3 separate regions of the Homo sapiens genome follow, and regions 1 and 2 are each linked to region 3. Evidence: fine-mapped expression QTL. A gene starts in region 3. Each other region holds a variant in brackets. All regions are shown on one strand. Distances are between the middles of the regions. Region 1 overlaps VPS50 (VPS50 subunit of EARP/GARPII complex). Region 2 holds the start of TFPI2 (tissue factor pathway inhibitor 2). Region 3 holds the start of VPS50 (VPS50 subunit of EARP/GARPII complex).

Region 1 (10,418 bases), 76 kb after region 3:
TTTAGGAAATCTCTTTTGCCTAAAAAGAGTTACAGTTAAAATGATATTTTTTGTTTGTTTTGAATTCAGAAAAGGGTGACTGCTGTATTTAAGTTTTGCAGATAATCAATTAGCTATATTTTGGCATAGTTTAATACAAATGCTTATTTATATTTGTAGAATATTTTTCATTTCTTAAAGGGACTAGTAGGTTCCTAATTTGTGCTGCAATTCTTAAATTTGCCTGTAATGAAAAAATGCCTCAGAAATAAAAGAGGCACTTATAAAAAATACTCTTAACTAATTTGTATTAGTTAATCAATTCCTGGAATACTTACAGAATAAGCAGTCTTTGAAAAAGTCTTTAATTGGTTTGATTTTTCCCTTGGTTGAAACACATTGTAGATAAATATTCTTGTGTGAAAGATTGTGTTCTGGAAATATCAAGTGTCAAAATGCAGTGCATATAGTTAGATCCTTGTTCAGAAAGTATGGTGTGTTTAGTTTCTGCCTTTGGAAGGAGTGGCTTTCTAGAAAGCAATTTTCTTATTCTGGATAAATGTAAAGAATACATAATTACAAGTTTTTTTTTGATAGGGATTGTCTTTATGCTCATATTGTATAATAGCTTCTTATCCAGTTTTATTATATTGTTTTCCTATTATAGAAATATTAAAAACCCTGGAACATAGCAATTAATAAATGCTTTAAAGACAGCAAAATTAATGTTAATGTTAATTAGTATTAACATAAGCATTAACATTAAATTAACATAGGATTTAAGAATTCTCAAAGATTTAAGGTAATTCCTTAACATCATTTAGAATTCTAAGTTTAACATAAATTTTAGAATATCTATTAAATAATTTTATTTGAACTCCTTTTTAACCATCAGACTGTGTGTGTGTGCTGTCACGTTGTCAAACTTAGTATAATTGTAAGACATGTTTTTTAAAAAAGGCATGTTGAAGCATTCCCATCTAGGTGAACATTATCTCCTTTAAAGTAGTTACCTTGAAAACTATTCACAGCTTAGTGTTCACCTGACATGCATTCATGTGGATTTGATTTTCTAAAAATTAGTCTCATTGATGTATATTCACTCCTTATTTAGAATTATAAAAATAATGGCATGATTCTTAGGCATTATAATATATATGATTAAATGTATAGTTGAAATGCAAAAGGAAAATAAACACATATATCATTTAATACAACAAGCCAATGTACCTTTCAAGAATTTTAAGAATACCTTTGAAGAATATCATTGAAAATGAATAAATTTAAATTTGGGATTATTCTGTTTAGATAAAAGAAAAATGTTTGTTAAATTTTGTGATAAATCATTAAATCAAGATTTTTGTAATTCAAAGGAACTTTAGAGATTATTCCAACTTTTCCTCTAATTAGCTGTGTGATGTTGAACTTTGCACTGAATCCCTTCAGACTGCCTCAGTTTCCTCATGTGGTTAATGCATGACTTAGACTGGGTCTTACAACTCTTTAGCTTAGCTAGGAGTAGAAGACACATCATATGACTTTGGCATATATGTTTGTGTTGTCTGTTTCTTGGTATATAGCGAAAAGTAAATGAAAGTTTGTAGGCGTCAATGTAACACAGATATGTACTTCATACTTTATTTCTGATGTATTTGTACAGAATATCTTAAGTGGTGCAAGCATATGAAAAAGAGAAGTGTTTAACAATTAGTTTTCATAAATGACTTTATTGATTAGGATTTTTGCTGTTCTGTTAAAATTTTTAGAAGACATCATTCAGATTTCTTAAGCTATTTTAAAAAATGATCTCTGCAGTTTCTTAAAGGAAGCCAAAAGTAGCTTGATGCAGATGATACTGTTTTAAGTGATACCATTCACTGAGTTGTCTTTAGGAAAACCTTTAGATGTGTATTTCCAAGTTTGTGCTTTTAGATAACTTGAAAGATTTAAAAGTCAATAAACTGAAGATCAAGATGTTGTTTTTCTACTAACTCTACATGTATATTGAGGGATTCGGTTTATGTACTAGAATTTTATTGTTGCTAAAGGGTATCTGGCTCCTTTTTTAACATCTAGGAATTTAAATTCATGGAACAGTCTCGCTCCCCATCAGTTTCACCTAGTAAACAGCCAGTCTCAACTTCTTCAAAAACAGTGACCTTGTTTGAGCAGTACTGTAGTGGTGGGAATCCATTTGAAATTCAGGCCAACCACAAAGATGAAGAAACAGAAGATGTCTTAGCTTCTAATGGGGTATGTGGTGTATGTGAAACATAAGTGAGTTTTTTTTATTTAAAACTGTTCTACTCAATGAACAAGGCAATTCACTACATTTACGTATCCATTTACTACCACCCTGCCTGCCTGTATACTTAATGTACCTATGCTATTACATTTATAGATGATGACTTTACAATATGCTTTGTTGACCTTGTCCTCTTGAATAGTAAATTTTCCCTTTATGTTTGCTTTATGTTCTTATTACATGATGTTCTTATCAGGTTGCTAATCAAGTAGTAGTGTAATTTCTTCACTGAATATTTACGTGATATATTATGTGAATATTATGTGATATATTGTGAGATGACGGAATAGATATCATCTACCCTTTTTCTCGACACCCTTTATGGGTCACTGATTCATTTTGTTCCATGTCCCTTTATCTAAGAGAAAGTGGTAATGTCTTGCATAGTTGCCTGGCAGGGATATTTTTTGAGATTTAGAAGTACAATGTTTTAACAACACTTTGAGGACCTCAAAAACAATATTAACTAGACGTAGTGTGAGTTAGTGGAAAGGATTTGAAGGCAAATAATGAATATCATCTTTATTATTTATCAGCTGTGTGGCCCTTGGCAAATTATTTTAACTTTGTGACCCTCAGTTTCTCCATATTTACAGGGAGAGGAATGCTTGCTTCACAGTTCCTGCATGGTGTTTTCACAGTATTTTACTTGACTTAATATTTTGTTTGATGGTTTCTTCTGATCTTCATAATTTCCATAATGACCCAATATGATTTTTATTTTTGATTTGATGAAGCTAAAGTGAAAACCATTCAGATGTGACAAAATATGTTGAAGGATTTGTCTTTATATTTTATGTTAGTTTTAGAATTTATTTTTCATTTGGTGAAGACAAAATTCATTAAGTTTAAATTGTTTCATAGTAAGCCATATTTAAAATTATGATTCAGTGATTCTTTGTGACATTTTGCCTCTGTGAAGTTGGCTTAACCGAGAGGAATTTAAAGTCATTCCAATTATTTTGGAATAATATATCTCTCTATAAAAGTGATTCATTAATTAAAACTTAGATAGCATTTGATTCTCATTATTTGCAGCAGTGTGTTCTATAAAGTTGCTGTGAATACTAAATTAGCAAATACTGAACCATTACTCCCAGAGCAAATATAGGATTAGGTTCCTGTGAGCCTCGGGTTACGACATGTTTATCAGCCCATCAGTACATAATCTGAATTCATAGCCAACAACGCTGTAACTCTTGCCTAAATGAAGCTTATCAGACACACATATTTTGTTTCTCAGGCACATCACAGCCTTCTTGTACTTAGAAACACTAGACAGCACTTCAACGCAACACTTGCAGTGGCATTCTAAACAGTTAAATCACCAACAAAAAGCACAAAAATACAAAGCACTTGGCACTAAATAGGTCAAGAAAAGGAAACTTGTTTATAGTATGAGAGCCTAAGCAAGAAGGCAGAGCATGCCTTGTTTGTATTCAGCTGGGAACATGCATGTTGGATGACTCAAAGTTTTCACTGTTCTGCACGTTTATGACTGACTCCAAAAATATCAGAAGTATTGACTTTAGGGTTACAAATAAATTTCAGTGAGTAGGCAAATTTGCAAACATTGAATCCTCAAATAATGAGTATCTATGATACGGTGTGGTCACAAACCTCTGTTGTTGTAATCAGGACATCCTAGTTTATGTAGAATACCTTTCTGCATAGCATCAGGATCACATTGTGTATAAGTATAAAGGAGTACCTGTAAGGCTTGTTTGCAGTTATTAATGTGTGATCTGATCTTTCCAGGTGCAACTTATGTCCTTGAGAATCAGGGTCCACATTTAAATACGACCTTTCATAGTGCTTTTTATTAACAGACTCTCAAAAAATAGTTGTTGAATTAGGGGGCTAAATTCTTTCCATGTTGTTATCATACTGGTTTCCTCAACTGTCATGTGGAGATAAAACTTCCTCATAGAAGTGTCTGTATGATTAAATGAGATAATTCATGAAAGCACTTAGCATAATACTTGGTTAAAAACTCAGTGTTAGCTATTACTTAATGATATTAATGTTAGCCATTTAATCGTATTAATCTATGACATTAATAGATGATGATGATGATGATGATGATGATGATGATGATGAAAGTGCTGTCACTGCTTCCTTTACTGTGTGCATGAATTCCACTGTCTTTCCCATGCTGGCATTGGGCCATGGTGCCATAAAGATGATGAAAATGTTAGGAAGACACCCTTTGTCTCAAGAGTAAATCCACCATTTTTGTCCTCATTCTCAGCAGGTCCCTGTGTTCTAAGCTTAATTTTCTAAGCTGCCCTCGGAATTAAATTTTATAGTGAATTAGAACATCAGCATGTGTGTTGCATGTGTTTATTAAGCTGAAGTAATACTTCCAGAATGCCAGAATTGGATACTGAACCTCTTTTTAATGAGTTTTATTAGCAAATTGGAAATAAGTATGGTGAAACTTCTGAGAGACTTTAAGAAAAAAAAATGCGAATGTATACTCTTTAGGCCTAGTGGAATGTTTGTTAGGTTTTGGTTTATGGCGATTTGATTTTGTTGCACATTTTCAAGCTTTTATAGGTGTAATATTTTTCTTTTGTGCTGATTGAGGTAGAATGATGAAGACAATGGAAGAATAATTAGATTCTTGGTGACAACATTAAAGCTAAATTAAGAATTTTCTTGTATTTAGCTGTTTCTTATAAAACTGAGTACTTTCACTGTGTTGAGACACCCCACGAAAAGAGGCCCTTTATACTCATTTTTTA[A/G]TAACCTGTGTTTTCTTCAGTATGAATCTGATGAACAAGAAAAGAGTGCCTATCAAGAGTATGACAGTGACAGTGATGTTCCTGAGGAACTCAAACGAGACTATGTGGATGAGCAGACAGGAGATGGTCCTGTGAAAAGGTGATTGTTCTTAAATTGTGTGGTATTTAGCATTTTATCTTGTGCTCTTAACATATAGGATTTCCTTTAAGGTTAAGAAGAAACAAAAATTATTTTTTTTGGTACTTATAATGTCACCTGACAGAAGTTAGTATGTTTTAAAAAATGATTCCTGGAAGGCTAAAAATGTGTTGTTCCTCTTAACATTTCATAACTGAATTTCAGGAAAACTAAAATAGTTATATGAAAAGTTCTGCCTTGCAAAACCTTTGCTGGTATCTCACAGATCAGTTCATCTAACTGTGAACTGGATTGTTAATGTGTCAAAAAAGAAATTGATTTAGCCATTTAAAAACTTTTAAGTGGCTAGTGTTAATGTAGCTTTCCTTTGAGTTATACAGTTTGTTTGACATTGCTTTTTGTAGCAAGATTCTAGTTCCTTTTTTATGGTATCACAAAGTTAGTGATTTGTTTAAATCTGTTAAAATTACTTTATTATCTTGTTGAAAATATTGGGCATAATCAAAGAGATTAGTTTTTGCAGAGGAAAAAGCCTTTAGATTTATAAAATCAATCCTGCCTTTGGTGGCCATTTATGCTTTACATAGATAAATAAAAATCCTCAAGGAGAAAATGGTCATTTGTTTTGTATGTGGAGTTCTTGCTTCAATCTTATAAACACAGAAAGTCGCCACTTATTTCCCCTATGTCATTTTTGTTCACTATTTGAACCTTCTATCAAGGTGTCCTATTAGTGGTTGAGTTTTGTTTTATGATAAACTGACCTCTTCAAAACTATGATAATTATAAGAGAATTTTTTCTTACCTTTTGCCAGTTAAATGGGCCTGATTCTGGAATGTTAAAATGACTTGATTTCATGACTATCATACATTTAGTGACTATAGATATACTTTTTGCTTAATGATAGATTTCTTAATGATAGATTCTTAATGATAAGTATATTCTTATCGTTTAACCCTAAGCTACCTATTTAATACTGTTTAACTTGAAATCTCGACTGAAATAATTCTGTTTTCAAAAGTGAGCAATTCACGTAGTTGTAGCTATTTTAATTGAAAAAATTTGTTCTATTGGTTTTTGCGTATGTATGATATTAAGTGTCAGCATGATCTACTGTGAACTGAATAGAACTATTTTGTTGGAATTCTTTATTAGATGTGTTTTGGGAATATTTTGGCCAAAAGGAAAGGTCTATTTGAATTGAAATGTACAAGTAAGATAGTGTCTGCCAGTACATGTGTATATACCTCCATTTTTGGTAGGGTTACTGGAGCCCCCTAAACTTTTTACCCTTAAGAAGTTTGAATTGAACAAATTAGTAACTGAAGCCAATAAATTAATAGATATTATCAGTTCTAACTTGTGTCTCTTGAATTGACCAATTTTTCTTGTATTTTACCACTACCATTCTAGTTTATGCCAAAGTTATCTCTGTGCCAGATTATTAAATCAACTCCTTTACCTTGGATTCTTGTCTCTAGGCTTGCCCCATTCCAAACAACTCTTAGATCTAAATTTAGGGGTTTTTTTTTTCATAGTTACAAATTTAATCATGCTGTTTTTCTGCTTAGCTTTTAGTGACTCACCACTGTGTTCAAGATAAGGTTCATATCCCTCAGGTTTGATTGCTTTCAGAGATATCTGGCCTTTACTTGCCTCCTTTCTTGTCACTTTTCCCTCTGTTCACTTCTTCTACATGCGAACGTGGTGAACTCCTTGTACTTTTCTGAGCGCACTCTGTTCTCTCTTATCTCTGACCCTATTTTATGCCGGCCCTTTTTTCTGTGCTGACCATATAGCTTTTACTTTTCTTTTGAACCTTATGCTGCCCCGTAACCCCAAATACTGCCATCAATATTCTGTACTTAATTCACGTTCTTAGGAGGGTATTTTTTCATAAGTTTCTGAAATCAAGAAACAGTACATTTGCACCTAGATGTATTATTATCCTGGAAAATCAGTTTTTTAAAGAGATGTAGCTTTTTTAGTGGTTGATAATGTTTTATAATCGAAGAAATGCATTATGGTACTTTATTTTTTTGCTTACTTATTTCCCTTATGGATTGTAAATTTTATAAGAAGTTAATTTCTATATCTTTACCTAATGCATAGTAAGATTTTCATTAAATAATTAGTTAATAAAGGCTAGGGACCTATCTGACTAACTTATTGGTTTATTACTTGACAACTCTAGCAACTCTGTTTTGTTTTTCCATATCAAGTGTTTCTCGGGAAACTCTAAAAAGCAGGAAGAAATCAGATTACAGTCTAAATAAAGTGAATGCACCTATCTTAACAAATACAACATTGAACGTCATAAGACTTGTTGGTAAGTAGCTACACCTTTAAAAAAAATTATAACAGTTAAATTAGTTTGTTACCGAATGACTTTTACTTGTGGTTTTTATTGTCTTGTATACTCCAGTGCTCTATGCAATGAGGGATTTAAGGTTATCATATGTCAATGCTTCTCATTTTAAATGTTCCAAATACTATAATACTAATAGTAATGCCAGTTTTTCTTTTTCAGTTACCTGTTTATTAAGTCTTTGTATCTTACAATTTTTCTAAAATATTTCAGTTAATTGAAATGCGATGAAAAATTCTCTAGGTAGGTTAGAGGTATGTGTAAGATAAGTTAGTACCAGTTTCACATTTATACAATATTTTTGTACTTAGTTGTTTCATAGGTCTTTACCATCTTCTGTCAGGCAGAGTGAATAGTGACTTTCTGGCATTTTCAGACACAAGGGATTTACAAGCTAAATGTTCAGATTATAGGAAATGTTGTTTTTGTAACAGATAAGACCTTTATTGATGATTTTGTAGAAGGCAAACAATATGAAGAAATGATATTTTAAATATTCAGGTTTTAGGATGATGTGGATTTTTTTAAAATCAGTATTTCAACATCTTGTATGCTTTTAGCCTTTGTATCTCACAAATAAGTCTATGTATTTGACAAATAAGTTATAGAGATGTCTTCTCCTATTAAACTTCATTGTTCCAAGCAGGAATTTTAGTGGTTTTCCATAAAAATCTCTATATTCTATCTATGGAGATGGTATTTACCTATTGCCTAGTTTGATTAACCTTAGCTCTGTTGAAATAGTCTGTGTTCTTTAAGATAATTCTTAAATTTAATTAATGAATAGGATAAAATGTACAGAATGCTTTTTAGGAGTCACGGTTTCTCTAGAAAGAGCAAAAAATATTACTGAATTGAGAAGAACAGAAAGGTATACCTTTTCATGATGCTCAGAAAAAAGGATAGATTCTAAAAAGCTATTCTGTGGCTAATTATTGCCAGGGAGCTAAGCTTTTCTTCTTCTTCCAAGAGAACTGACTGAACATAGTGTCAGAAATAACTCTCGAGAATTTGTAGAATCAGAATTGGGAGAGTGCTGAGTGGTCATTGGTGTAAGTTGCCATGAAGTCGGTTGTCTTTCTGTAATGTCTCTCATACATGGTAGCTGTCTAGCTTCTGTTTCATGACTCCCAGTCATTGGAAACACAGTGGTTTGCAAGACTACTCATTCTATCATTAGACTGATCTCATTAGTAGAAGTATCTTCCCTAAGGTAAACCAAAACCTGTCTCTCTGTGATTCTAGCCTTTGGTTTGTCCTTTTGGTCTAAGAGTTATGCCCTTAGAAGCAAGAAGAATAAGTTCGTGCATTTTTTTCTTCTATTTCTTCTATTCTTCTATTTCTTCTATCTTCTATTTCTTCTATTCTTCTATTTCCTCTATCTTCCATTTCTTCTAATTCTTCTATTCTTCCATGTGATCACTTTTCAGATATGTGGTGGTAGTTATCGTGCTTCCTTTTCTCATACCGACCACCCCACAATCCATTTTTCAGGCTCCATGGGCTCAGTTCCTTTATCTTGTCCTCACTGATAGAAATTCAGACCTTTCAGAATCATTGTCATCCTCCTTAGCCTTCTAGACTCAGCAGTTTTCAATGTCCGAACACATTCCTTGAGATGTAGTCAGCTTTTGCTAGATTATGTTGAAGTAACAAGCAACTGTTGGTGCATCAAGACGTTCAACCACAAAGTTTTATTTTTCACTCGTGATACGCATTGTCTCCTGTTTATATGCAGCTCTGCTCCGTGTGTCTCTTCATTCTAAGATGTAGGTTGAAAGAATAGTACCAACCAATCTGGAACATGGGGAGAAGAGCAAAAGCAAACTATGTTATGACTCCTGAAGCTTCTGCTTCCATGTGTCACCCTTGACTTCCTCTGACATGTCATGGCCAAAGCAAGTCAGGCTTGGCAAAGGGAGGGGAGAAGTATGCTTCTGCCGCAGGAAGCACTGCAAGTCAAGGGAAGTGGGCAGGGCTGTATATTGCTCTTACAGGGAATTGGGAAAAATAATATAATCAAACACATCTAAGCAGTTGTTTATATTTTTTACCTTACCTAGTTCAAAAGGGGCTGGAGGTAGTCATGTTGCTGTTTACGCTGAAGGCATATTTTCATTATAATCAAATAAAATAAAATACAAGGCTAAGACAAAGTTGAAGAGTGGGCACATCATGCTTTATCATATCATATTTAATGCAGACATCAAATACAATGCTTAACTTCTTGGTAGGCATAAGGGAATTGAAGAAACAATATATACCACTATCCTCGTTATCTGAGAAAAAGATACAGGCCTTTATAATAATGGTAGAAATATGTTCCTGGTGCTGAATTCAGATGTTAGTAACAACAAATTTTTGTATGAGGATTACTGATCAACATAGTGGGCCTTGCTTTTGAACAGTGGGTTTGTAGGAACTGAGAAAAGCCACATTCAAGACCCTTTAAAGTAAAGTAAAGTATGGCACAGTCCTGAATAAAGCCTTACTCTGTGAAGAGAATTTGACTATTGCAATTTCAGCTTTCTCCACTACCATATCTTTTACTGGACTTGCAATTAGGAAACAATGCCGAGTATGACAATTTAACTTTTATATCTTCTCATTTAGGACTGGGATTAGGTGCTGCCATTATCACCCCAGTTGGGATCCCCAGTAGACTTTTATGCCTATCATTTTCTCTCTCCCTGGGATGTTTTTATCTTCAGTTTTTAGATATATACAAAACAGAACTTTAAGGAAGCCACTGTCTCAGAGGCCTCTGACTAGCAAATGCACTATTCCATCCGCTGTTGTTATTGCATAGAAGTGCCTGAAGATTATAAACTGGCAGAGGTCATGCTTCTTCCTACAAAGGGAGAAGTACGGTTGTGTAA
Region 2 (10,911 bases), 660 kb after region 3:
TTGGTTTTTTATAAGTTTAGTGGTCTCCAACCCACAATGTCTTAGGAAATAATTTAACAATAGGAAAACCCTTAAAACCATCTATCTCTATGTAAACACAAACATATACATGTGAGTGGGGATTGGTAGATAAATAGATAGAAATTGCTTTCCCAGAGGAGAACATTTCTGGCTTTAATAAATTGATTAGCTTTTTAAATCAGTCAAGAAAGTTAAGATCTTTTAAATAAATCCCCTTATTCATTCATTGTACTGCAATCTAACACAATAAAATGGGAGTAATATTTTTAAAGTGTTGTTAATCTGCGACTTTGTCTTCTTGGGACTAAAATATAATCCAACTTTTAAATGCAAAATGAGTTTTATTTGCTAGTCCTTTTTATTCTCAAATATGTTAAAAGCACATGATTATATTGTCTTATGTTGTTTCAGTTATGATCCTCTTCTGAAATCAGGAATACGACCCCAAGAAATGAGTGAGTCATATTTGCTTTTATATCTTATGCATTGCAAGAATTCAGTCTCACAAACAGTTGAACCATAAATTAAAAATGGTAGACTCACATTTGAATAGCAGCTAGTTATATATAAAAAAATCCAAATTTTTTAAAAAGTGACTTGTATTAATAAAAACTGGTGAATAAATCACCAATGATTTGTTTCCTCATGCTGTCATATTATTCTTCAGATACAACCATAAAGGCAAATAAGCCATAAAGACAAACAAGATGACATATTAAGAATGTTTAAAATTGCTTCTTCCGAATTTTCCGGATTCTACTGGCAAAGCGAAGCTTTGGCATCTTCTTTTTCTTTTTCAAAGCTAAAATCAATAAAACGACAATGAAAATCATACATCTCCAGTCTGTAGGCTCACTATAAATCACTATTTCTGATAAGGTTATTGAGCTCACTTCATCTTATTTTTAAGGACTGTGAAGTCAAAACTCATTATACACTCAGTTAATAATATTTTACCTTTAAGATATGAAGATACAGCTACCGTCTACTGCAGCTAGCCAGTAAAAGCATTTTGACAAAACTGATTAACACTACGGAGATACTTATGTAGAAGTAGTCTAGAAACAGCAATTTGCTATTAGTAAAATGGATAAATAAAAATATAATTTTTCTGATAAGTTATTTATAAAGTTTATCTAAAGGTGGAATAAGAAAACATTCACTACCTTTTGCACATGCACGTTTGCAATCCTCCCTGCTAACAAAGTTATTGTCATTCCCTCCACAGCCAGTATAGGTGAAAGCATCACAGGTTCTGTATCTTGGATTAAAATAATAGCGAGTCACATTGGCAGAGCACAGTCCCTCATCTTTTGGACTGTAGCAAAATGATGGAACTTTATAAAAAAGAGAAGAAAATTAGAAATGTTATAATACCAGAATTTTTAAATTATGGTGATTACTGAAGTAACTGAAGAAAATCTAATCCCATAGAAGCCTCAGTCTGAATCCAAAATATCATACTAAACCTTTAAAAAGATGTGCTTCAAATTGCAGGTAAGCTTACATGCTATATTTTGGTAATTCTAAATTTTTGTAAACTGGATAGAATTTCTTCTGAAGCTACATCTTTGTATCCTTTAAATGTAAAAAGAAGTTAAACCCAAATACCAGATATGGTTAGGTAAAAATGGGGTAAGTTTCAAGGACAATATGTGGCATGATTTGGTAAATTTTGTCGTGTTGGTAGTTTTGCTTTAATGTTTTTAACAGCTCTCATTCCATTATTAATCAATAATATATGCATACTAATTTCCAGGTAACCACTGGAGCAAACATTTATATGTACACAAACAAGAGAACATCCACAGTAACCATCACCACATTAACTCAAGATTTTGCATATTCAACACAGTACAGCTATAAAGCTTTATCAAATTCTCTGCCAAAGCAAGTTTTCCTTGTTTGTTGAACTTTTCAAAAATCTCTGTGTCTGGGGGAAATGCCTGTATTGTCTCCCTCTGCAAACATTAAATACTACTCAAGAGACTATCATTTCAAGGATTCAGGGGTGGTGGTGGGAGAGGTAACAAATGGATAGGACAGAAACGTGTGGAGATGTTTGTGCTGCAATTTGCAATTACTGAAGAATACAGAAATCTAACCGAAAACTTTAGAAAGAAATTTTCAAGTTTCACCATCTTAATTCTGTATATATTCCACTATCTCACATGTATAACTTATTGTGTACAAATCTGAGGTCATAACATTCATTAATGAATACTTTAATCTTTTATGCATAAATTGAGTAGCTGAGAAATAGTTCTAAAGAAACAATTCAGGGCTGGGCGTGGTGGCTTACACCTGTAATCCCAGCATTTTGGGAGGCCGAGGTGGGCAGATCATGAGGTCAGGAGATCAAGACCATCCTGGCTTACACGGTGACACCCCGTCGAAAGAAAAAAGAAAGAAAGAAAGAAAAGAAAGAAAGAAGGAAGGAAGGAAGGAAAGAAGGAAGGAAGGAAGGAAGGAAGGAAGGAAGGAAGGAAGGAAAGAGAAAGAAAGAAAGAAAGAGAAAAAGAAAGGAGAGAAAGGAAGGAAGGAGAGAAAGAAAGAGAAAGAGAAAGAAGAAAAAAAAAAAAATTAGCTGGGCATGGTGGCGGGCGCCTGTAGTCCCAGCTACTCAGGAGGCTGAGGCAGGAGAATCGCTTGAACCCGGGAGGCAGAGGTTGCAGAGAGCCGAGATTGTGCCACTGCACTCCAGCCTGGGCAACAGGGCGAGAGTCCGTCTCAAAAACAACAAATCAGAAGAGGCAGAAAGCAAAAATTTGAATCATGGCTTTGTCACTTTCCAGTCCTAAGAACTTGACAAGTCACTAACTTGTCAAGTAATGTGAAATCATGAAAATGCACATGTTAATTTCGCATCAAATTGAGTTTTTTCCACCCAAATGTCTTTTCAAAAAAGTGAAATAGAAATACCATAAAAATCGTATTTACTTTTCTTTGGTGCGCAGAAGCCCATACAAGTAGCTTCATCTGGAAACCTGTTCTCAATCCGGTTCCGGTGACACCCACCGGAAAAGAATTTTTCACATGTCATGGAACTTAGATTAAAGAAATACTTTTCTGTGGACCCCTCACACTGGTCGTCCACACTCACTTGCAGCCGGCAAACTTTGGGAACTTCTAGGAAAAGGAGGGTAATAGAACAATGTTAGTCAAAAGTAGCCTTCTTATTAAACCATCACTGTATTTTCAGCAACATTTTGTGGGGGGAGAGAAGTTGTATTAGTGTTGGGATAGTAAATACCCAGAATACTCCCATGAATCCAGATATTTACTTTTTTTTTTTCTAACAGTGTATTCAGAGCTGACTCAGCTGTGATGTATCTTTCAAGTTCAGTAGAAAGACTCTCTGTTTTCTCTGGGTGTTCTCTGATTGTACATATGCAGTGAATCAAAGCTTATTCACATGAATACGCATTTTCCCCTGGCTCAGTTCCTTGAATGGAAAAGCCCCATGTTCTCTTACAGGCCTTAACCGATATAATTTAAAAATTAAAAATAAATTAAAATATAACAGTATTATGAATCTCCACCATGTCCCGCAACTAATCCAACACATGTTTGGGTATCGGGACAAAAGTAGAGTTATATAATGAGCTAAGTCACACTTCAATAATAAAATCCACTAAAAATATTTCAGATTGATGGATAATCGACAGAAGGAAATGATGTACTCCAGGAGAGATAAAAATCATAGGTTTGGAATTAATGAAAAATACAGAGAAGCACTTACGTTGTACCTAACACGTTATTCTCTTGCATTTATTATACCCCATGGTGAGGGAACAAATCTTTCCCTGAGTCCGCACAGGCACTGAATTATGATCAATGTCAGTTGGGAGACAGGAAATGTGTTAGTGGTTGTAAATTTGTGATTACTTTTAAGAAACTGAAAACCATGAGGTTTGCTTAACACTTGAGAAAACCCAGGCTAAAACTTCCTGTAGAAAGCGAGACGTGGGAAACTGGCGAAGCTGCTACCAGCCGCCGGCGCAAGGAGCGCGAGAGTCCTGGGTGCGCGCAGGGCACTTACTTTCTATCCTCCAGCAAGCATCGTCGCAAGCCTCCCAGGTGTAGAAATTGTTGGCGTTGCCCTCGCAGCCCCCGTACAGGAACTGGCGGCAGCTCTGCGTGTACCTGTCGTAGTAGTAACGGAGAAGTAGGGCCCGGCAGGGTCCGTAGTCTAGGGGCAGGAGACAGATCTCCGCGTTATTTCCTGAAGAAGGGGCAGAAGGAGAGCAAAAGAGAGGGAAAGTGGTCAGGCGTAGCTCCTAGGAGGAAAGAACATCCCGGGGAGTTCTGTCCCCTTCCGAGCGGAGGGGCCTCTGCAGAGAAAGTGCAAACTTGGGAGCGAGTCCCCCCTGCCAGCGGAGCGCGCGGCAGGGACCTGGAGAAAGCGAGGCTTGGAGGGCGCCTACACGGGGCCCCATGGCCCGCTGCGCCCTCTCCGCCGGTTGGGGAGAGAAGCTCCTGGAGCGGCCAGATACCTGTTGGCTCCTGAGCAGCATCGCCCAGTGCAGCCTCCGTCAGGAAAAGCAGCAGAATCGACAGCCCCAGGGGGCGAGCGGGGTCCATGGTGCAGGGGGTCGGGC[G/T]GCCCGCTGGGCAAGGCGTCCGAGAAAGCGCCTGGCGGGAGGAGGTGCGCGGCTTTCTGCTCCAGGCGGCCCGGGTGCCCGCTTTATGCGGGGCGAGCGTCCGGCCGACCCCCGCCGGGGCGGAGCCTGAGGGGTGGCTGATTCATGCACGGGGACTGTCACCCCGCCGCCCCCGCGCTGCAAACTGTGTAAGAGGGAGAGGAATTCCCCGCCAAGTTGAAAAGTTGAACCTGCCTCCCAAACTTTCTCCTGTAGTCCAGACGGGGACGCCCTGAGGGAGCGTTTGTGTCAGTAATGGGAAATCTGCAAGCTAGACGGAAATGACCTGCTAGTGATTGCGCTGTAAAGAAGCCGGAATCCACCTCTTGAAGGCATGAAGTTCAGGTATTTGAAAGGCTGGTGGAGAGAAAGTGCGGAGTTCTTGGGTCAGAGCGGAGCGGGATTCGTTGCAATGGACCTTCAGATTAGATTAGAAATGTAAATAAGTGTATATTTATATTTATACACACAGATTTCAATCGAGTTCTAATTTACATTTAATACAGGCTTATAATATATCGTAGGTGGACAGTTTGATAAATTTTGACAACTGTGTAGCCACCAATAAAGAATTAGAACATTTTGGCTGGGCGCGGTAGCTCGCGCCTGTAATCCCAGCACTTTGGGAGGCCAAGGCGGGTGGATCACCTGAAATCAGGAGTTCGAGACTAGCCTGGCCAACATGGCGAAACCCCGTCTCTATTAAAAACACAAAAAATTAGCCGGGCGTGGTGGCGGGCACCTGTAGTCCCAGCCCCTCGGGAGGCTGAGGCAGGAGAATGGCTTGAACCCAGGAGGCGGAGGCTGCAGTGAGCCCAGATGGCGCCACTGCACTCCAGTCTGGGCGGCAGAGTGGAACTCCGTCTCGAAACGAAGAAAAAGAAGAAGAAGAAGAAAAAAAAAAGAGTTAGAACATTTCCATCACTCCAGAAAGCTCCTGCAGACTTTTTCCTAAATCAATCCTTCCATCCTTAGGCCAGGGGCAAACACTCTTCTCATTTCGATTACCATAGATTAGATTTGCCTATTCTTGAATTTCATATAAACGGAATTATAAAGTATTCACTGTGTAGTATTTCTTTCTCACACTTCCTGTTTTTGAGATACGCCCAGGTCACTGCATCAATAGTCTGTTTCTTTTAATTCCTGCGTAGTCCAAGGTATGAATTTACCAAAACGTATGAATATCCCACAATGTATAAATATGTTGCTGTGTGTATCAATAGTCTGTTCCTTTAAATCATTGAGTAATATTCTAATATATCACAAATGTCTTATTACTGGAATTTGTGTTGTTTCTAGTTTGTTTGGGGGCTCTTATGAAAAAAGCTGCTTTGTGTGGACCTGCAATTTTTATTACTCTTGGATAAAATACTTAGAAATGTTAGACACTGCCAAAGGATTTTTTCAAGATGATTGTACCATTTTACACCCCAACCAAGCATGTATGAAGCTATGTTTTTGTATGTATCTATGTTTTTGGAGAAGAACCATAGCAGCCCAGAGAGATAGCCTTGGGGAGTTCTGAAGATTTGACCAGATCAGTGTATTCCCACACATTTCCTAATGTCAGTGCATCCATTAAAGTTCCCTGTTCCTTTGACATATTAGCTTGTGATCCACTTTTTTTTTTAATACAAACAATTACCTACAGTGAAATTTTACATAAAATATTAAAGATATTTTTGAAGACATTTTAATATACTTGTCTTCCCTTCCCCTTTTCTCTTGTTGTATTCAACATTCTCAAGTAAATAATTATTCTTGACTTCTGAGGATACTGGGGGTAGTTTACAGAAGTTCTCTTTCAAGTTTTCAGGAAGCCCTGAAAAGTATAGGACACACTTGCTCAAAGTGGGTTAATAATCTGAGGTATTTTGCACATTATATCCTTGTGCCAGTTTTCAGTCATTCTGATGTCATGTTACAAGGTCACAGTCCTAGGAAAACCAGCCTGATCTGGAAATGCTGTCAGCTTTGATTAGCAGATGTCTATGATTAAGAATGATAGTTGAAACTATAAGGATAAATGTTTAATTATCACCTCTCCAGTAGGGAAAAATAAATGGGATGGGGATGCTTTGTATAGTTAACTGATTTCTGTGATGTAAATGTGCTCACTAAGGTCAATTTCAAGCTGCCACTGCAGAATCACTGAATGCCGAGGTGGGAAAAGATCTCCAAGAGCCAGAGCTCCCCATGGCCAAAATCTGTGTGAGCTGGCTCTAATGCACCAACCACTGAGACAGACAGCCAGTTTTGGAATGACACATTCAGAGTAAAGTCAGATTAGACCCTCCCAGTTCCTTCAAAATATTATTAGGGGAGGGAATTTTACCACTCATTTACCGAGAATCATATTCAGGAGAAAAGTTGACTCAACTTCAAACTTACCTATATCTATCTTCTGAATAAAATTAAATATATCTTTAGACTAAAATAAAATTCAAGGACTGATACTCAGTTTTCATGGAGCACTGACTACTGCCATTTCTCTTTGTTCTCAGGTGCTGGACACTTTTTGATTGTCTTTCGCTCATACAAAAAAAAAAATGAACCACTGGACACAATGGCTTCTGCTAGTAATCCCAACACTTTGGGAGGCTGAGACAGGAGGATCGCTTGAGGCCAGGAGTCAGAGACAAACCTGGGCAACATAGTGTGATTCCATCTTTACAAAAAAAAAAATTTTAACTTAGCTGGGCATGGTTGTGTACACCTGTAGTCCCAGCTATATGGGAGGTTGAGATGGAAGGATTGGTTAAGCCCAGGAGTTTGAATTTGCAGTGAACTATGGTCGTGCCACAGCACTCCAGCCTGGATGACAGAGTGAGACTCTGAATCTGACTAAAAAGAAAAAAAAAAAAAGATTAGCCCTTTTGTATCAAGACAGACATTTTGGGAAATTGCATCGTGCCATGGAAAAATAGAGTTGGAATTCAGAGGATACCTGGATTTTATTCCTTGCTACATTGGACAAGTTACTTAAAACTCTCTGAGCCTCAGTTTCCTTTTCTAATAGACATAATAACTCTACCTCGCAGATGTGTTATGAGGATTAAATGGAAAATGCCTATGCATTCAAAGATATTGTTTTAGCCCCTCACACAATGGCACAAACTTCATCCAGATCATCCCATATCCTACTTCCCATTGAGAGCCTTGGCACACAATTTTGAGATGGAGCATCAAACTCCCATCAGGAAACAGAGCAACATGAAATGGCCTTATAGAATTAAAGCCCATGTCCTTGCTCCTGTCAGCTCTTCTCTTAACTAAGCTCAGAGACCACCTCTCTGCCCATGAAGTTGTCACACTTTCTGGTAGTCTCTTCTAGGGAAATGAGCTTCAAGGGGATTTCAGAGCAGAATCCTCAGCCCACTCAGGGCTGCTGTATAAGGCATGTAGTGGAAATGGGAGGGGGGCAAAAACAGGCCTCTCACCCTTCTGTGGTGTGGTCTGTAGATGCAGGTTGGAATCAGTCCCGAGAGATGCTCTAGAAATGCTGGTTTCCTTCTACTTTTCTATGCCAAACAGGGTGCATCCTTAAAACCTCTATGACCACAGATGGAGAAAGGAGAATTAAAGAAGTGGAATTGGCAGAAGTTTGAGATTACTAACCCAGGTTATTACAAAAAAAGTATTCCTCTTAATTGCATAAATAATTGAGTATTTTTATATCCATGAAAAAGACATCTTCCAATATAAGGGTAATCTGAATTTCCTGGAGACTACTTTGACGTTACTGAATTTACATTTAGAATATTTTGGAAGGAGCAACATGACCACCACAATCAGCCTCCAAAGGGATGTCATAGCACTTCTATCTCCTTAATCCAGTGTCTAGCCCAAAATGCTGCCTCAAGGCTGAGGAAAGTAATTCCTTTGTCCAAAGTCAACAGGAAGTGCAAGGCTAGAGATAACTGGGAAAAACAGTCATCCAGATTGATTTGTCATTGCTACACCAATTGACAGTTAAATTGTCTGTGGCTAAAGACAAAGGCTCAAAATAGTCTGGAGTTCTGTAAAAATAAGGCATGGAGTTGTAATTTGAATGCTGAATGGAACTATAAGTATGTTCACTTTACACAAGTGTGAACTGAGATCTAGAAAGGTTAAGCATCTGGTCATGTTTACCTGCCATGGTTGTTGGCAGACCTGAGACTAGAATCCACAGTTCTGGATTCTTAGTCCTATATTCTTTCTATCACACCTAGACCTAAGTTCTTTCTACCATACCAAGACCTTAAAGCAGAATATGAAATACCAGAATTTAAAAATGCAAAAGCTGCAGTGAGTCCAGGAGCGCCTCTGCATGTGTCAGATTGCTGCCTCTGATCTTTCTCACCACCACACCCCTGGACCCCACAACAAATGAAGTTGATTTTGACCTGTTTAGCCCCTCCCATGCCTTGAGTATGATACTGTATCCTCTGAGAGCCCTGCCGTCTCGGTAGGTGAACCAAGAATTTAAGAAATGGACTGTGGCAGATGGTCTTCCTCTCTCTCAGACACCTTAGAGAGAGGTAGCATGTCTGGCTTATGAGTGAATGATGAGAATTAATTGAGCCCAGTGATTTGGGGATACATATTATGTAACATAGGTATTTAAGGAGTTACACTGATAACTCCTTAATAAACAAAGACAGTTTTTGCTGCCTCTTAGTTTAAGCCCTGCCAAAATAAAACTTGAAATGAGTCCAGCTGGCACTAATGAGTTTACACATCTGCTAAGAAAGATAGTTAATCTCTTCTGAGCAGTAAATGGTCATGAGGGTTTTGCTAAAGTTTAAGCAACTCCTTCACCAACTAGGTATTTTTCTAACCAGCTGGGCCATGTAAGAAACATTTATTCTAATGCACCCTCTGTCAGGCACAGAGTGCATTTGAGAGTGCTATATAATAAGATGAAGCCACATGAAAGGATGGGGTATCCTCTGTGCCTAATTTTATGAATCCCCTTCCCCCTAGAAAGAAAGAGATAATGAGGGTATATAACGTATCTCTTACTGTGTTCATTCCTTCATTAATCTACTTTAAAGGGAGCTGATTAAATGTTTGAAGTGTGACAAACTTTATGCTAGACATTTGGGATACAAATATGAGGGACCTCATAACATAATAGGGTAGATGAATGAACACTGTATAACCCAGTTACATTACAATGTTCTTAGTACAACATCAAAAATATGTACTAGGTTGTATAGGATTATAGAGGAGGAAGTAAATAAAAGGTAGGCAAAGCTCAATTCCAAATAAAATCCACTCTATGCAAACATACCTGACACTATATCTTCTAGGCCTATGCAATACAGAGACTCATTCCTTCATCTATTTGTTTTGGTTGGCTATTTTAGGTGCTGTGGTTGTAACAAAGTATTGCCTTCTGCTAGAGGAGCAGAATCTCAGAAACCACTTTTCTCTACTTCCTGGATGTACATTCCCTCAAGTGTCATTATGTCTACTTGCGATGCAGACCATCTTTTCTCTCACTCAGATTGCTACATCTTTAACTGTGTATGGCATCCAGAAGATTATGGCAAATTTTAGATGATTTTTATCCGAGACCTCCCAACTCAGTGCTGCCTCACCACCTAGCCAAAATTCTAGCCTTGGTTACTAAGCCTCTGGCACATCAAGAGTGGAGAAAGGAAGAGGAATGTTCCCCTAATCCCTGTATATCATGTGGAAATCTCCTTGGCAATCACAATACTAGTGGACATAACAGTGAAAGTTTGCATTATGCCTTGAATTTATTAGCTCATTAAATCCCGCACAATAACGACTTGAGGGAGATATGTTACTCTCCCTACTCTGCAATGAGAAAGCTGAAACTTTTGATAGATATATGACTTTCCCAAAGCTATTCAGTTAGCACAGGCAGTCTAAATCCTGATCCCCTGGTCTCACTGACTGTATACACAGTCTTTTTTTCCACATTAACAGAGGCCAAAGTCAAGCTTATTATATATACTTTCATGACCCTGGTTCAGTACCTGGACAACGCTGTATCAGTTTTCTTTTCTATGCAAACATAAAGTTCATAATTCATTCATAGGGCAAACAGATAGCTACAATTTAAATACATTGCCATAATGCTCTAAGAAGAACAGCTGCCAAAACTGATAATCAGATTAGAGGATTGAGAAATTTAATCACTAAAGTCCTCATTTTCACGGTTATATTTAGCAGAAAGTAATGGACCTTGACCTTTCAAATGTAAAGACACATTTTCTTTCAAATATATTGT
Region 3 (10,911 bases):
AGTATCTGAGGCCACATTTTCACAGCTGATGCATAGAGGAAGTGAACCAATGATCTAGAAAAGATCTTACCTCTACTGCAGTGTCCAGGTTACAGGTTTTCAACCTGGTCTCTCCATTGTCATGGCAGCAGATAGTCTAAGCATGTCCGCTTAATTTACTAAGTTATTAGTTAACCCCTATTTGCAAGAAGGCTCTGGTTCTAGCCTTGTTATATAAAATGTTAAGGATATATCCAAATCTGCATCAAATCATCAAATCAAGGAAAATTCCTTGCATGCATCAGTTTTAACAGTAAAGGCCCACTGAAGAAGTTCAATGATAAGAGGGGAAGGAAGACTATACCTCAAGCATAATTAAAGTAAAAAAGGAATGATAGTAACTTTGGAATCCAAGTTTGGAAACACTCTTTGCATTAGGGCTCTGAACTCTTCTAGAAGGACTTCTATAAGCAAAGAAAGTAAGTGACTATTGGGAAAACGAAGTCCTCTTCAGAGATCAGTCACTTTCAGATCCCTCCATGCTTCAGAAAAATGGCAAGAGCTCCTCATGCTTCCCCCACCTCCCTGCAAAATAATAACAATGCCACAACTTTCTCTGCACTGTCTCTAAATCTGGTACACACATCTATTGCAGCACTTATCTCCTTAATCTTTATTTTATTGGATGTTTATTTTCCCTCTGAGCTCTCGAATACAGAGAATAATCTTATTCATTCATGGATGTTGGGCACGTAGCATAATGCTTAACTGGTATTTTTGTTAAGTTGTTTCTCCAGAAAACAAAACTCTAAGTGCTCCTTGGCCCGTCTTACGATTCTCAGTTGATGCGTAAGAAATACAAATAAATTTTAATATTGGATTGCACAAAATACAATTTGGAAAGTAATATGGAAGTTCTACAGATATCACATAGGTTCCCCCAACATCTTTTAGATTGATATTAATCTCCAATTGCCGTTATCAAATTAGCTGTTTTCAGTGTTTTTCAATCTAGTGCTGGATTATAATGAAGTTTGTTGGGTCCCTGGCAAAAAGAGAAATAAAGACAATGTACTGTGTTTTTCCCTAGTGTTAAATATACTCAATATAAAGGAGTTTTTTATTCTGAGATTTTCTTTGTTGTATTTGAAAATATTCCCTGTTTCATGACATAAGGTGATAGTAGATGCTACATTAAAAAATAAATGCCATATGAATCTTACTTGTAATCTTTTTATTTCATGGCACATATTGAAATATAATACGGCACATCTAGGGAAAGGGCTACTGGGATAATCATGACAAAGCGCCCTCTAGTGGTAAACTGTAGATATAAACTCTTACCTGCTGGAGTAACTTCTGATTTCAACATGTTTACACAGGAAGTGAGAAAAAGAGTGCTCAAGCTTAACTTCAACAATTGTTAATTTTTACATGATTCTTAAAAATAGTTTGAAGGTTTTATAATTATAAGAATTTTCCTACCATCCATATCTCACATCACACCTGTAACCCACTGGGAAGTTCTGCTGTTATCATTCCAGTCAGGAAAAAAGGGCCTGTAGTGTTACTGTTTACCAATCTTAGTTATATTTGCATTTAAAATGAGAAGGCTGATTAACCTAAAACAATCTATATCCACGGTGATTAAACTGCAAGCAATGTAAGGAGCCACTGGGATAGAGTATGCGTGTGTGTGTCCACGTGCATTTACAATGGGATATGGACACATATACTCCTGTGCAGGAGGGTGTGTGTGTGTGTGTGTGTGTGTATGTGTGTGTATGTTTGTTGGGGGCAGGGATTTTTATTACCTCTCAAATCACACTACACAGTTTACAATCTAGTTTATTTAAATTGCAGACTGGTATTACTTCATACAGTAAATGTCTGCTGCATGCATTTCAAACATCCACATTTTTAATCACAAGTAGCTAGCACACGCATGTTTTGCAGTGGCAGAAACAATTAAGGAGAGGTGGTGAAATGCCAAGGTCAATGTAGATGCAGAACAGTGGGGAATAAGAACTGGGGAAAGAAATGTTTCTTATTGTTGTAATTAGTGGATTCTCTCCAGTTTACAGGGAGAGTTAGCTGCCAGAGGAGGCTATCACATATGCCTATGCCTGTGCTAGTGTTCACTTCTGTAAAGTCTACAAAGCTGCCTCGTGGAAGCCTTGATCTATCTTATATGGCTGCTAAATACTAAGCAGTAATGTCTTCTTCCTGGGCACCTCTTTAGGTCACTACTTTACCTTTGGCAAGTGTTCTGTTTTCTGTTATGGCCTGCTCAAGAAGTGTAGTCATATCATCTTGGAGGGGCTGCATCTCTCCACTGCTTTGGTATTTGTGGAGTGGTAAGAAATTTTATCTTTCTAATCAAACCAGGATCTCAGCTTTTATTTAAGCTTCCAGACATTCCTCCTGTTTTGGGCCATTAGTAATATGCCCTTATCCTACTTTACTACTAATCCTATTGTTCTGAATCAGATCAATTTACTTAACTCTTGGCTCTGCACTCCTTTACCAAGGAATTGGTATCCAGCCAACCTTCCCCAGGATTTGGTGGCAGACCATCTAAACTTTCCATTATTTTGCACTGGACTATCACTAACAACAGCTCTCAGGTAAATGTGAAAGTCCTGAATAAATCTTAAAAATAAATACCTTTTTGAAAATTGGAAAGGAAATAGCAGCATGTCCAACCTTTTAAAAAGTGTTTGTTAGGATGCCAAGTTTTTTGTTTTTTTGAGCGTAGACAGATAGAAATGAATAACGTAAGGTTCAATTATTTCATATAGTGTTAAGGTATGCTGAATTAGAAAATATAGTTTATTTAGACACCAGCGCTGATTTACTTTACAAGCTTTCAATATTATAGTTATAGCCTTAAAACATTTAGAAGACTGTATCCATTTTTATCCATTTCTCCAGTTTGTAGGAAATAAACTAAAATGTAGAGTTTTGGAGTAAAACAAAGTTTCAATACTTTCTTGCGTTTTCAGTGTCGAATAGATAGGGATAACACTCATTTTTCTGAATTTGGCCAATAGAAATACACATATTAGATAAAAAAAACTTTTTGGGGGGATCATCTTTAACTTTGTGTATTTGAGTATGTGAGGGAGAAAATTCCGGGGTTGAATCTGGGTTCTAGTCCTAGATCAAGCTCTCATGAAATATGTGGTCTCGAACCCTTATACAGATACGTTTTCTCATCTTTACAGCATGGATTTGACATGCTAGAGCTGGACTGCCTTTAAGAATCACTGAAGATTTTAAACAAACAAACATCCCCAAAGAAAACAACAATAATAACAGCACACACCTCAGGTGAATCTGAACAGTCAGGTTTGAGATCTACTGAACTCAGATCACCCCTAAGATATGCTTTTAAACCCAGTTGTGAACTCCTTGTGACCACAACCATAGATTATTAATCAAAGTGCTTATTTTAGTGTTGCCTTGAGCGCAACAATCAAGAAATGTTTATTGACTTGGGTTTTATTTTATAGGCTAATATGGCTGGCAGTTTTTGTTTCTTTTGATGCTTTCAGGGACTTCTAAATATTGCAGATTTTCACACACAAAGAACAGTCTGACAATTAAGATTAGAGAAGGTAAAGAATAAACTAAACTAGACTTGCCCTAAATGTGACCAGAATTTCTTGAAGGGGTTAGAAATAACAGAGTCAGAGAAGCATATAGGTAAACATATAATTTCAAAGGAATTGCTGAACGCAGTGATGATACAAGTATGCACAAGGTGGTTCTGTTGGAGTAGAGAACTGGGCAGAATCAAAACCAATAATACCTCATAATTGTATAGTGCTTTACAATTTATACATTTCATTCACCTACATCATCTCACTTATCCTTACAAAGCCCTATATAAAATATTAAAATATTACAACCTCATTTGTAAAAATTAATAAAACGAGGCTCTAAGGGGTGAGAAAATAGAATTTCAGAATCAGAAATAACCTCTGTTAGTGTCCCCCAAACTTCAGTCATTTGCAAATCACCTTTATTAGTTTTGCCATATCTGACTACCACCCATACTATTGTTTACCTAGTATTTTTTATTACGTTGACACACTTGAACTTTTTTTATTCTAAGAAATATTTTTGAAATTATGGGTCTGTGTCATACTTTTAGAAGTTAACATTATAATAAAATAAACTTAAAAAAATTGGTGCCATGCTTTAGAACTTTCTTCAGCACAATACATGAAAATCTTAACACATCTGATGACCGATTAATCCTTCAGTTTCTACTTGCACATCTGCAGTAATCTTAGGCAAGTTCCTTAATTTCGCCATACCTGCTTCGTCATCTTTAAAATGGGAACCCACAGGATTCTTGTGTGGATAAATGAAATCATATATTTAAAGCTATTAGCAGTTCCTGACAGGTACTCGGCTTTCGATAAGTGTTAGCTATCATTGTTAGCTTTAGGGCTGCTTTTTCTTCTTCTTCTCATATTCTCATAATTGTAAAGTCCTTTTAAAATTGTGTCCCCAAAGACACTTCTGTTCCTTTCCCCAATTTAACTAAACTGCCAAAAGTTGAAAAGAGGACTTTAAAGTGACAGGTATACTCGTTATTGTCGTATTTCCCGTCATCACTGCTTTAGAGTACGGAGGTAAAATAATAGGCGGGCGTCAAAATCCTTCGATTTTAGAGCTTTTGCAGGGGATACCAAGACTGAGGTAGAACAGCCCTAAACCTGGAGGGCCGCCTATTGGGCAACCTAGAGCACACCTTTCCTCAGGCCAAACCCAGCGCGCCCGGGGTAGTCTCGAGTTCTCAGGTTACCCCTCAGTGACAGCCCTTTCTTGAGTTCCTTCTCCTTCGCGTCAGTCTCTCGTTCTCCCACCCCGCCCCTCTAGACCAGGTGAGGTTTCCTCCCTCACACTCCTAGGGGACATCGCGTCAATCTGGCTTATATATTGTCTCCTCTGAGTTTGATCTTTCGCTCAACGCCTAGTCACCTGTGACTTAGGTTTCCGTCTCGCCGAAGAGTAGCTACTGCCTAGTGCAAGCACCTTTGTAAGACCGGCGATCGCAGTGGTCGCTCTGAGCAGTAATATTTACCGGCTTAACTGAAGCACCCGCTCTTTTGCTTGCTGGGAGATGTAGTCCCTGGGTTGGCCACTTTAGTTCATCGTTGCTACCGCCGGCGTCCAGAAGACTACAGTTCCCAGCAGGCCCAGGGAAAGACAGGATACCCTGGGTCGGCTCCTCCACGTGACCACCCACTATGGCTTCCTAGTGTCAGGGCCAGCTGTGTAGTGGCTCGGTGTGATTTGTTAGCTCTTTGAGGCAGGGTACCCTCCTCAGGATTTCGATATGCAAAAAATCAAATCTCTCATGACCCGACAGGTAAGTCGCGGCGGCTGAAGCAAAGGCTTCCTTCATCTCGGAAGTGAGAGGAGCCGAGATGTTCTGTCCCCAACCAGTGGCGGGCGGGGATCTAAGTTATGGGTGGTGGCAGGTGTCAGGGGGACTGGGAAGCCGGGGCATACCCTAGAAAACTCACCTGGGCCGCCTGGGTTGGAGCACTGCTCCAGCGGGTACCAGCCTCCCAGAAATATTCGTTTAAAAATAAGTCATTGAAGGAATCAGGGTATCTTTGTCTCCCCTCCTCCTCTTTTTGCCGTCTTTCCAGAACAGCCCGAGCTTCCTTGCAAGGTCTTCCGCATCCAGGCTGTCTGTCATATGCGAGCTGATAGCCTGGGTAGGGTGGTGTGGTCTGTGCAGTAGAGGTGACCTGGAAAGACTGAAAACGGATGATTTGAAGACAGAATTAGTAGCTTTTGGATTTTGGGCAAGTCCCCAAACTTTGTAGCTTACGTTTCTGGATGTGAAAATAATTATTTTTGTTCATTTTACTTCACAGTTCTGTTATGAGGGTCATCGATAAGCTAATATATGTGAAAACTCTTTGTGAAATTCTGCTTTAAAAAATTTATTTTTGTCATGGCAAAATACTGATCTTTTCTTTTTTTTCCCCAGAATGGAAATTCATGAATAAGAGCTTTGGCTATTTTGTAACCTGTCTCATAAATGTTAGGGACCTCGTAATAATGCCTCAGCTTCATTTAAGAAGTGCAGAAATTTTCTTTTATGTACTTATTGATTATGACTTTGTTTTAGCTGCCTTTATTTACTTCAGCTTTAATATTTCACTAGAATTGGTCATTTTATTATTTTAATATGAAAGATAGTTAAGATTAGAGTTTTAAATCAACATGGCTTTTAGAAGTTTGGAGAATGTGGAAGGTAATCGTTTAGTGAAAGGTATATTTGTGAGTTTTTTTCTTGTTGATTACAAAAATAACTCAAATTCCACATTCTTATTTGAGAATTCACAATTTGAGAGATATATAAACAGGATACAAATTGTGTATTTCTCTTGCACAATGCACAAATGACCCTTACATGATTATTTTAGTTATGTCAGAGCATTTTGTTAATGTTATGAAAATATAATCAAAATGTTCTGTGAATAATAAAAATATTTAAGTAAGTGGCTAGTAACATTTGTTAATTCCTCACATGTGTTGAGTACTGGTGTTGTGCGTCCTACTACTTCTTACTTGACGATGAGTTTGGGTCCTGCTGTATCCTGTGGCAGCTGTGTGACTTTCGGCAAGTTACATAACGTTTTTAAGCATCTATTTCCACATCTTTAAAATAGGAATAATGTGTGCCTTATGGAGTTAGCCTGATAGTGGTGTTTACATGATATAATGAAGTTAAAGAGTTTAAGGCGTTAACGGAGTTCCTGGGCATTATCAAGGAAGTGCTTGAACGCAGAGACCGTTAGTTACATTGGCTATGTTGATGGTGGGAAAGCAGGAAAATTGGAAGCAGGCTGTTGCAGTAATTCAAGCAATAGATAAGTTCATGCTGACTTCGGTACCTGTTTGATTTTTAAATCAATATATACTTTTGTACTTTATATCACTAATACCTCTAAACTGCCTTTGGAATGCTGAATTTGGACTTTTGTGCATCAGCTGTTTGATGCTGTCTCAAGTTTGTTGCCTGCCATACAGTTCAGTGTAGTTAACGTTGTCATAATTGTATGGTAGCTGTGGTTGGTTTAGTTTTTTTGACCTCATTTTGTAAAACTGAGGAGAGAAAAAAATTTCAGATAGCAGTGATAAGTGTATGTCTCCTAAATGTAATGCAATTGTGCTGAAAATGGTAACACTTAAGCCTTAGTCAGTTGCTTATTGAATTTCAGCAGGTCAAACCTGTGTTTAATTGAAATGGAAAAAAATACATTAAAGAACACATACAAAAAGCTGGAACCATACTGTGTACAAAGTGAGGTAAAATTAGGAGTTTTGCATACATATTTAAAGTTATCCTAATTATATATGTTATGGCTTGACTTTCACATATTTGATACTGATGCACAGTTCCTGAATCTATGAGGTATGAAATTAGTGTGCCTGCTATTTACATTGAGGGTTTGAATTAGTACAGTTTATTATTGGGTTAAATTTAATAGGATTACAAGTAAGTATACATGAAAGTATTTCTTTTTTTGAACCTATAGAATGTGCTAATAATATATATTGAGTTAATATGGAGAGATAGGAAATTAAGGTCTGTGAAATTTAAGCTTTGGGACATTTCAGCTGTCCTGGGATCTTTGTTTGCAAAATAATGGGAGGAAGGAAGGCTTTGTTAGCTCTCTTTATTTAGATGAGATCTGTTCTTCATCTTTCTCCATCATGCTCACCTCTGTTCTTTCAGTCCATTCAACAAATGTTTATTGAGCAATTTGTGCCAGGTACTATTCTAAGTAAAAAAAAAAAAATAGACAAGTGTTAAGGCAGACACGGTGATAAACACTGTAGAGGAAAAGAGGATAGAAAGTCCTGGGAATTGTTGGTGATTTGAGGTCACTTATAATTTTAGATAGGATGGCCACGGAAGGCCTCACAGAGAAGGTAATATAAAAAAACCTGAAGGGGGTGAGGAAGTGAACTCTGTGAGGTAGATATTTGGGAAGGAGCATTTCCAGTGGAAGGAAAGGCAAATGCAGAGGTCCTGAGGCAGGAGCTTGTTTGAGAAATTGCAAGTGGCCTGTGTGGGTGAAGTGAGTGAGGAGAAGAGTAGTGGGAGATGAGGTTAGGATGAGGTTAGATGACTGAAGGCAGGAAGCTAGATCATGTAGTACCTTATAGGTAATAGCAAGGTCATGGCTTTCATTCTGAGTGAAATGGCAAATAGAGGAATGATATAATTGGACATAACACTTCAGACAGACCATTTGGACCCATGTTTTAAGAACAGATTGAAGAGCGGAAAAGAGCAAAACCAGGGGAGGTGAATGATGAGGCTACTGTGGTAATCCAGGTGAGAGGGTGGGTGTAAGCCTTCCACCCTAGTGGTGGAAGTGTTGAAAGAGGTCAGACTGTGAATATGCTGTAAATGTAGAGGTGACAGAATTTCCTGACAGATTGGGTTTGGGCTGTGAGGGAAAGAGAAGCATCAAGGATGACTCAAAATAGTTTGGCCCTAGCAATTGGAAGAATGTAATTGCCATTTCCTCGGATGGATAAAACTGAGGGAGGAACAGATTGAGGGAAGGGACATGGTTTTTGGACTTGTTAATTTGAAAGCCTCTTAAATATTCAACTGGAGAGATACAGCAGGCAGTTGGCCAGATGAATCTGAATTTATGGGGCGAATCCAGGGTATAGCTGAAACTCTGGGAGTTACAAACATGTAGATTGCATATAAACTGGTTAAGATCACCAGTGGAATGAGTGTAGATATACAAAGAATCTAAGGTTGGAGCTTTTGAGAATCCAGTGTTAAAAACTCAGGGGGAAGTGGTGGATCTAGGAAAGCAGAATGAGAACATGCAGCTTGTGAGGTAAGAAGTCTTTAGCTTCCTGAATGGCACCTGGAATATAGCAGATGCTCAATAAATATTTGTTGCATGAATGTGGGATGAAGAGAACAACCAAGAAGACTGCCTTGAAGCCAAGTAAAGAATTTAAAAGAGTAAGGAGTGATTAGCTGTGTTAAATGCTGCAGATTGGTCAAGTAAGGTGAGAGTGAGAATGAGAAATGTGCTTTTGGATTGAGCAGCGTGGAGGTCCTTGGTGCCCCAACTACAGCAGTTTTCATGAAGTTGTGGGGAGGAAAGCCTGATTAGAGTGGGTTCAGGAGAAAATAGGGGGAGAGAAATTAGGGACTGGGTGTAAACACTCTTGAGTTTTGCCGAAAGGAGAAGGAAACACAAATCATCACAGATGCTTCTTTGGATGGATAAGACATAGTTGCTGGTTTCGTAAATGGAAAATGAGGATTAATGTAGACATAACTGAAGTAGTCTGAAGTGTTAATCTGATTTGGGTAAATGAAGAGGCGAGTGTTAATTTATGCTGAATTTTCTATATGTCTAAACTGGGGAATTATCAACACAAACATCAAATACAAAAGAAAATCAAATAGTGGTTAATGATAGCATCAAAGTGTTAATAAAGGCAGAGAACTGTAGTTAAAACCATGACTTCATGCTTTAGAGAGATGAAGATAAAATAAGAATGACTTCATTTGTTAGTAGAAGTTTATAAAACTGATAAAGTGTTAAAAATCTGTAATTCTAAAGTACAGTTGAATGTCAGATGTGCTTTGAGACATTTATGTAATTCTTCATTTCTGTTTTGATAAAAGGAAAGCATTTCTGTCATAATAAAAATATTAAGAATTATGGTTAATCATCACAGAATGCTTGAGATATATGAGACAGTATTTTTGGCTTCTCACATACATGACCTCTTTTACTTCTTTTTTTTTTTTTTTTTTTTTTTTTTTTTTTTCGAGACAGTCTCACTCTGTCGCCCAGGCTGGAGTGCAGTGGAGCGATCTCGGCTCACTGCAAGCTCCGCCTCCCGGGTTCATGCCATTCGCCTGCCTCAGCCTCTCAAGTAGCTGGGACTACAGACGCCCGCCACCACGCCCGGCTAATTTTTTTTTTTTGTATTTTTAGTAGAGACGGGGTTTCACTGTGTTAGCCAGGATAGTCTCCATCTCCTGACCTCGTGATCCGCCCGCCTCGGCCTCCCAAAGTGCTGGGATTACAGGCGTGAGCCACCACGCCCGGCCTGTTTTACTTCTTATAATAGCCTATGAATGATCATAGAATATAATGCACAGAAAGGATAGATAAGTTGTTCAAAACCACAGCAAGAAAGTCAGGATACAAACTCAAGTGGTCTGCTCCAGAGCCCATTGCTATAATCACTTCACTCTACATCCTCCTAACATGTACACGGGTTTTCAATTTGTATTACTTTTATTTTGTACATTTGGCAGAAATTTGCCGTGTATTGGTATTGAATTGTTGTGTGGTGACTACTTTTTCTAGATATTGGTATATATCACGTTTACATTTCAGGCATTGGTTTCTTTACGGACTAGCTCTGGGGAAAGAGAAATTAAATATGATATATTTCTTCAGGGATTTCTGTTAGATTAGTTAAGCAAATCTATACAGATGGTCCCCGATTTACTATGGTTTCACTTAATGAATTTTTGAGTTTATGATGGTTTTATTGAGATTATTAAATGTATTTTCCACTTATAATGGGTTTAAAAATTTTTTTTATTTTTAGTTCAAGGGTACCTATGCAAGTTTGTTCTATAGGTAAACTCGTGTCACAGGGGTTTGTTGTACAGATTATTTTGTCACCCAAGTATTAAGCCTGGTACCCAATAGTTATTTTCCTGATCCTCTCTCTCCTCCTACCCTCTACCCTCAGGCAGTCTCAGTGTCTGTTTTCTTCTGTATGTTTCCATATGTTCTCATATGATGGGTTTATTGGAACATAACCCAATTGTAAGTCGAGGAGCATGTGTACTTTGAAAAATGTTTGTTTAAAAGACATGGCAATTAC

Evidence for each region. PIP is the estimated chance that this variant, and not a neighbour inherited with it, causes the effect.
Region 1: its variant is fine-mapped to the expression of VPS50 in whole blood (TOPMed, PIP above 0.99). The same link has a PIP of 0.9 or more in blood mononuclear cells, cerebellum, lung, sun-exposed skin, thyroid and tibial nerve.
Region 2: its variant is fine-mapped to the expression of VPS50 in monocytes (BLUEPRINT, PIP 0.95).

What each region holds. Positions count from the first base shown.
Region 1 is chr7:93,303,773-93,314,190 of GRCh38, forward strand. It overlaps VPS50 (VPS50 subunit of EARP/GARPII complex), which reads left to right. Exons shown (of 28, transcript NM_017667.4): 18 at 2,056-2,232; 19 at 5,052-5,170; 20 at 7,394-7,500. Among named protein-coding and RNA genes, the nearest start is that of VPS50, 77 kb to the left of the region's middle. The variant A/G (reference allele first, on the strand shown) is at 5,032.
Region 2 is chr7:93,886,074-93,896,984 of GRCh38, forward strand. TFPI2 (tissue factor pathway inhibitor 2) reads right to left here and starts at 4,680. Exons shown (of 5, transcript NM_006528.4): 1 at 4,518-4,680; 2 at 4,064-4,246; 3 at 2,962-3,150; 4 at 1,188-1,358; 5 at 1-823. The coding sequence starts at 4,605. The coding sequence ends at 747. It overlaps TFPI2-DT (TFPI2 divergent transcript), which reads left to right and starts at 4,821. Exons shown (of 2, transcript NR_134235.1): 1 at 4,821-5,006; 2 at 7,169-7,515. The variant G/T (reference allele first, on the strand shown) is at 4,623.
Region 3 is chr7:93,227,136-93,238,046 of GRCh38, forward strand. VPS50 (VPS50 subunit of EARP/GARPII complex) reads left to right here and starts at 5,231. Exons shown (of 28, transcript NM_017667.4): 1 at 5,231-5,365. The coding sequence starts at 5,333. It also overlaps a transcript of HEPACAM2 not described here. RefSeq lists enhancers at 4,932-5,001, 5,142-5,311, 5,402-5,451, 5,692-5,751.